Homo sapiens: one gene and its partner. The protein of the gene in region 2 purifies or fractionates together with the protein of the main gene of each other region. This does not show direct contact. Each region holds a gene or a part of one and is shown on either strand. Other genes may lie near its edges. The genes, in order: WDR59 and SESN1.

The links.
Region 1: the proteins of SESN1 (region 2) and WDR59 purify together in Homo sapiens (co-immunoprecipitation; one study listed by IntAct). This does not show direct contact.

What each region holds. Positions count from the first base shown.
Region 1 is NC_000016.10:74,974,864-74,978,684, forward strand, and holds part of WDR59 (GATOR2 complex protein WDR59), read right to left. Parts: intron 1-3,821. UniProt on the Homo sapiens protein: As a component of the GATOR2 complex, functions as an activator of the amino acid-sensing branch of the mTORC1 signaling pathway. The GATOR2 complex indirectly activates mTORC1 through the inhibition of the GATOR1 subcomplex.
Region 2 is NC_000006.12:109,088,103-109,091,923, forward strand, and holds part of SESN1 (sestrin-1), read right to left. Parts: intron 1-3,821.

The DNA of each region.
Region 1 (3,821 bases), on a different chromosome or scaffold from region 2:
GTGAGGGGACTCTGGGAAGCTTCGGCCTGGTTTCCTTCTGACCTCATGCCATTTGCCTTTTCCCTTTGATTCTGCATTGTGTCCTTTTGCTGTAATATGTAATGACTGCAAATATGACTGTGAAGCCTCCTTATAAGTCACTGAGCCTGGCATGGCCTGGGGAACCCCCAACACAAGTAGGCACTACTATCCTTGTTTTATGAATGAAGGAAGTCAGTCGGGCGCAGAGGCTCACACCTGTAATCCCAGCACCTTGGGATGCCAAGGTCGGTGGATCACCTGAGGTCAGGAGTTCAAGACCAGCCTGGCCAACATGGCGATACCTCGTCTCTACTAAAAATACAAAAATTAGCCAGGCATGGCAGCACACACCTGTAATTCCAGCTACTCGGGAGGCTGAGACAGGAGAATCGCTTGAACCCAGGAGTTGGAGAATGCAGTGAGCCTATATCGCGCCACTGCACTCCAGCCTGGGAGACAGCAATACTCTGTCTCAAAAAACAACAAAAAAAAACAAGGCTGGGCACAGTGGCTTATGCCTGTAATTCCAGCACTTTGGGAGGCCAAGACGGGTGGATCACCTAAGGTCAGGAGTTTGAGACTAGCCTGGCCAACATGGTAAAACCCCGTCTCTACTAAAAATACAAAAAATTAGCCGGACATGATGGCAGGCGCCTGTAATCCCAGCTACTTGGGAGGCTGAGGCAGGAGAATTGCTTGAACCTGGGAGGTGGAGGATGCACTGAGCCGAGATCATGCCACTGCACTCCAGTCTGGGCAACAAGAGTGAAACTCCGTCTCAAAAAAAAAAAAAGTAAAAAAAAGAAAAAAAAATTTAAAAAAGAAAACTGAAGCTTAGAAAGGAAGTAACTTGCCCAAGATCACATGGAAGACAGGTGGCATAACCTAAATCTTAACACAGTCTGGCACGAAATCCTTAACGTCTTTGTTCTTCTCCCATTCATCACCACATCTTTATATTAAATTTTCTAGAAAAAAAAAATAGGCCAGGTGCAGTGGCTCATGCCTGTGATCACAGCACTTTGGGAGGCTAAGGTGGGAGGATCACTTAAACTCAGGAGTTTGACACCAGCCTGGGCAACACAGTGAGACCCCCATCTCGATGTTAAAATACACATATATAAATTTATTTAAAAAAGAAAAAATATTTCACAGTATACATATTAATAGTCACTTACACCAAAAAGTCCTATTCTGCCCCTCCATCTCTATAGTTTTTCAAAATGAACATTGTATGAAACTAAAAAAGTAGGAACCGAAGCTGGATTGCTCCAGAAAAACACACAGATTATTAATTACTTATAATTTTGCTCCTAGCCAAATAATTTGAGTTGTGCTTTTTTATTTTAGTTTTTATTAGAGTAAAACACAGTCCTCAATCTTTATCTTTGTGGCAAAGCTGTTGCAATGCTGAGACTAATAAATCACCAACCATTATTAGGTCAGAAGAGAGTATACTTTCTGCTGAGATGATTCATTTTCAATTTCAAGATAAAAGAAAATATTGAGGAATTTCTTTATGAATCTAGGATACGAACGTTTTTCTTTTTCTTTTCTTTTTTTTTTTTTTTCTTTTGAGACGCAGCCTTACCCTGTCGCCCAGGCTGGAGTCCAAGGGCGCAATCTTGGCTCCCTGAACCTCCACCTTTTGGGTTCGAGCGATTCTCCTGCCTCAGCCTCCTGAGTAGCTGGGACTACAGGTGCCCACCACCACACCTGGCTAATTTTCTGTATTTTTAGTAGAGACAGGGTTTCACTGTGTTAGCCAGGATGGTCTCGATCTTCTGACCTTGTGATCCGCCCACCTTGGCCTCCCAAAGTGCTGGGATTACAGGTGTGAGCGACCAAGCCCGGCCTAAACATTTTTCTTAAGAAGACTTAAAAAGAATTTGGGAGGCCATGGTAGGTGGATCATTTGAGCCCAGGAGTTCGAGACCAGCCTGGCCAACATGGCTCTATAAAAAATACAAACATTAGCCCGGCCTGGTGGTGTGTGCCTGCATTTCCAACTACTTAAGAGGCCAAGGCAGGAGGATCATTTGAGCCCAGGAGGCAGAGGTTGCACTGATTCAAAATCACGGCACTCCAGCCTGGGCGACATTGCGAGACCCTGTCTGAAAACAAAAACAACAAGACTGAAAAAGCATAATCCATAAATTTAACTGCATTAAAATTAAAGTTCTGTTCATCAAAAGACAGCACATAGCTGGGAGTGGTAACTCACAAATACAGACACAGTTACTTGGGAGGCAGAACCAGGAGGATCATTTGAGACCAGGAGTTCAAGGAGGCAGTGCACCATGATCGTGACTGTGAATAGGCACTCCAGCCACAGTAACAGCGAGATCGCATCTCAAAAAAAAAATTTTAATTTAAATTAAAAAAAAATTTTTAATACCATAAAAAGAATGAAAAGGCAAGCTACAACTTGGGAGAATGGATTTACAATATATATAACCATACAGAACTGGAATCCAGAAAAATTTTTACACTCTTCTTAATCTATAAGAAAGAGACAATGCAGCCGGGCGCGGTGGCTCGCGTCTGTAATCCCAGCACTTTGGGAGGCCGAGGCGGGCAGATCACGATGTCAGGAGATCGAGACCATCCTGACTAACACGGTGAAACTCCATCTCTACCAAAACTACAAAAAAATAGCAGGGTGTGGTGGCGGGCGCATGTAGTCCCAGCCACTCGGGAAGCTAAGGCAGGAGAATGGCGTGAACCCGGGAGGCGGAGCTTGCAGTGAGCTGAGATCGTGCCACTGCACTCCAGCGTAGATAACAGAGCAAGATTCTGTCTCAAAAAAGAAAAATAAATAAATCAATAAATAAAAATTGGCCTTGATACTTATCTACTTATAGCAGCTTTCTTCAGTCACTAAAAACTGGAAAAAAACTAAATGTCCATAAACAGGTGAATGAATACACAAATTGCAGTCTATATACTGGAACACTACTCAGCAAGAAGAAGGAATGCACTAACAGATAGGCTCAACAACAAGAATGAATCTCAAAAGCACTAGGCTAAGCAAAAGACGCCAGGTAGGGTGGTGGCTCATGCCTGTAATCCCAAAACTTTGGGAGGCCAAGGTGGGAGGGCTGTGTGAGGCCAGGAGTTCAAGACCAGCCTGGGCATCAACAGCCAGATTCCACCCCCACAAAAAATTTTTAAAAATTACCCAGGACTGGCCAGGCACAGTGGCTCACGCCTGTAATCCCAGCACTTTGGGAGGCCAAGGTGGGTGGATCGTGAGGTCAGGAGTTCAAGACCAGCCTGGCAAAGATGGTTAGCCAGGCGTGGTGATGGGCTCCTGTAATCCCAGCTACTCAGGAGGCTGAGGCAGAGAATCGCTTGAACTCAGGAGGCAGAGGTTACGGTGAGCCGAGATCGTGCGACTGCACTCCAGCCTGGTGACAGAGTGAGACTCTGTCTCAAAAAAAAAAAAAAAAAAAAAAAGAGCCAGGCCTGGTGGCATATGCCTGTCGACTCAGTTATTCAGGAGGCTGAGATGGGAGGACACTTGAGCCCAGGAGCTGGAGGCTGCACTCAGCAAGGACTGTGCAACTGCACTCCAGCCTGGGCAACTGAGAAAGATTCTGTCCCTTCAAAAAACAAAACAAAACAAAACAAAAATGAAAGCCAGACTCAAAAGGCTACACATCATATCACATGATTCCATTTGTTATAGAAATCCCATCAGCAGCTGCCAGAGATAAGGGATGGAGATTGAGTACACAGGGGGACCAAGGAACTGTTTGGAGTGATGGAAACGTTCTACATCATGATTACGGCAGTGG
Region 2 (3,821 bases):
GCTAGAGGGTTTCTGGGAAAGGTTTTCTTCCCCGAGAGAGAGACGTGGGAAGAAACTCTTTTCTTCTTAGCTGCAGATAGTCATGTCTGCACATGGTGCCTGGAATAGCATGCTGTAGGAATGGAGACATCATTTGCTATGCTGAGGAAGGAGAACAAAAAAAAGAAAGCAGACAAGTAATGTAGTTGAGCCAATGAATCAATCAAGCTTGGAACTGCCAACCTCCAGACTTATTATGTGAAATAATAAACTTATTGTTACATTTTCAATCTATTTATTACTCAATTGGATAGCAACTAGATACTGCAACTCCAACTGTAACTCTAACAGCTATAAATGTGCATCCTACCCAGCAACGAAAGTTTCATTTCTCCTGGAGGTGGGGGGGTAATAATCACTTTACTAAATGAAAGCCTCCACCACCCCACTTACCAAAGATAAGTATTTTGTTGCTTATTCTAAATTTTCTATCTTAAGCCAATTTACTTTCAGACAATATTGATTGCTGGCAAACTTATGAAAATGACCAAATGACCATTCTTGGAAAAGTACTTGGCTATTCTGGATAGGCCTCAAAATCTTTTGATACATATGTGCTCTCATATTTTCCTCCTTAATTACATGTATCATCAAGACTATAGTTCACCAGTAGACTATATTAGGAAAGTGGGCCAGTATTAATACTCCCATTCCTTTGTTTAGAGAATCAAGAGTATCAAAAGGTGTAATTCTTCTTTTTAAAGTTTCTTTAAAAACCCAGTATAAAGCCTTGGATGAGAATAGAAAACCTTCTTCAAAAGCAGGAAACAAGTCTTACTGATCTTCAAGTCCTAAGTACAGTGACTGCCTGGCCCAGAATATTTCTCAAAAATGTGAATATATTTAAACATGCTGATGTGGAATCAATAAATTGAGAACTGGGGTATAAACAAAAGATGCTATCTCCCAATGTGTCCATTTTTTTTTTTTTTAACAGATTTAGCTGCTTGGAATTGAATTCATTCTACCACCTTGTCATCGTTTCTCCCTTGCCAACTACAGCCCTTTTAGCTGACCTATAGCAATTAAGGGCTTTCAGGAGCAGCTGCAGAAATTGCATATGCACCACAGCTTTTGCTGCTTTACTAATGAATAACAGAAAGCATTATGGAGTGCTACATTTGAATTAATATTTGCTTTCTCATGTGAGGCTGATGCTAAAATGGTAGGCAGTGAAGCTGGAGAGGTAAGTGAAAGCCAGATAATGCTGGGTACTATATGACATTAAGAAGTTTAAATTCAATTCTATTCTAAAGGGCTTTTGCCAGTAAAGTTACATAGATTTTCATTTTAGATAAATGGCTCTACAGCTATGTGGAGGATAGATATAAAAGTGGAGGGTGAGTTTAATCTGGAGAAGAAGACATAGCAGTGACAGAACTAGAACAGCGGTATCGGGGGCAGAAATTCATTTAGGAGCTATTTCTACTTGGATGTCTCATAGGCAACTTAAACTCAACATGTCTAAAACAGCAGTCATTTTTCCCCTAAATTGACCCCCTGCCACTCTTTTGTCTCAGAAAACAATTGCACAATTCACCAAGTACCTCAAGCCAAAAACTTTAGAGCCATGCTTAATTTTGTTATTTTCCTCATCTTCTAAATCCAACTAAATACTATATCCTGTGGTTTCTAACTCCTTGATATCTATCAGACCCATTTTAATTTTTTCCACTCCCTCCTGCCCTACCTCACATCCTAGTCCACTATCACTTTTGTCATAGGCTAGTAGGACAACCTCCTAATTGATGTCACACATCCACTTTTGACCATGGAAATCCATTCTCTAGAGTGATCCTTCTGACACACTATCAATCACTATACTACCTTGCTCAAAATCCCCCAGTGGCTTCCATTATTTCTATGATAAAGTCCACAACCCTTAAATAGCCTATAAGCCCCTCTGGGATCTGGTTTCTGCCTAGTAATAGCAGGCATACCTAACATTAACTGAGCATTTCTTTTATGCTAGGCACTGTGCTATGCTTTGCAAACATCATTTATTTTATTCTCACAGCAACATTGTGAGGCAGGAACCATAAGCATAATGCTCATTTTGCAGATGAGGAAACTGAATCAAGGAGAGATTATGTAACTTATTCAAAGTTGTAGAGTTAATAAAGTACAGTCCCATACTGCGTAACATTTCAGCTGATGATGGACCCCCATATGCAACAGTGGCCTCATAAGATTACACACTTGACCCTTGAACAACAAGGGGGTTAGGGGGCCAACCCTCCACACAGTTGAAAATCTGTGTTTAACTTGTGACTCCCTCCAAACTTAGCCAACAATAGCCTACTGTTGACTGGAAACCTTACTGATAATATAAACAGTCAATTAACACATATTTTGTATGTTATACATATTATATACTGTATTCTTACAATAAAATAAGCTAGAGAAAAGAAAATGTTATTAAGAAAATCATAATGAAGAGATCATATATTTACCATTCATTAAGTGGACGTGGATAATCATGAAGATCTTCATTCTTACGGTCTTCACTTTGAGTACACTGAGGAGGAGGATCAAGAGGAGGGGTTGGTCTTGCTATCTCAGGGGTGATAGAGGTGGAATAGGCGGAAGGAGAGGCAGAAGAGGCAGGCATACTCAAGTGTAACTTTTGTTTGTTTGTTTGTTTGAAACAGGGTTTTGCTCTGTCGCCAGAGGGCTGGAGGACAATGAGACAATCACAGCTCACTGCAACCTCGAACTCTTGGGCTCAAGCGATCCTCCTGCCTTAGCCTCCTGAATAGCTGGTACTACAGGTGTGCTCCACTGCACCCAGCTAATTTTTTTTTCTTGACTTTTTGTAGAGATGGGTCTTGCTATGTTGTTCAGGCTGGTCTCCAACTCCTGACCTCAGGAGATCTTTCCACCTCAGCCTTCCAAAGTGCTGGGATTACAGGTGTGAGCCACCCCGCCCAACTTAGTATAACTTCTATTGAAAAAATAATCTTCCTATAAGTGGACTCATGCAGTTCAAACCTATGCTGTTCAAGGGTCAATTGTAATTCTATATTATTACTCTACCTTTTCTATGTTTAGATACACAAATACTTACCATTGCATTACAATTGCCAAAGCGTATTCAGTACAGTGACACGCTGTACGGGTTTGTAGCCTAGAAACAACAGGCTATATAACACATAGCCTAGGTGTGTAGTATCTAGGTTTGTGTGATTTCACCCTATGATGTTCAAACAAATATGATACCACCTAACGATGCATTTCTCAGAGTGTATCACCATCATTAAGTGACACATGACAGTATCGCAGCCAGGTCTGCCAAACTCCAGAGTATGTCCTCTTAAGCTATTCACGCCACCCTCAAACTGTCTGCCCCAGCCATATTGCATTACTTTCAGCTCCTAGAACTCATCTGCTCTCCTTGGCATGAGGCCTTCATACATACCGTTCCCTATGTCCGGAATGTCCCCTCACAAATCTCACCTTTACATGGGTAATATTTATTCATTTATCATGTCTCTGCTTAAATGTCATTGCCTCAGGAAAGCTTTCCCTTACTATCTAAAATTAAATTTTATATTTGTTTACTTCTTTATGGTCTGTTTCCCTTTGGTATGATGTCAAAATTGTTACCACTGGTCCTCAGTTCTCAGAATGACATTCAGCAGGAGTTCAATAAACATTTGTTGCATAACTGCAAGCATAAATGAATGATGCTGGGGTGGAAACTCCCTAAACTGAAAACTTCATCTATTCAGACTACTGATGAAAAACAGAAAGAAAGTATAAATTTGTTCATCCACTGGATA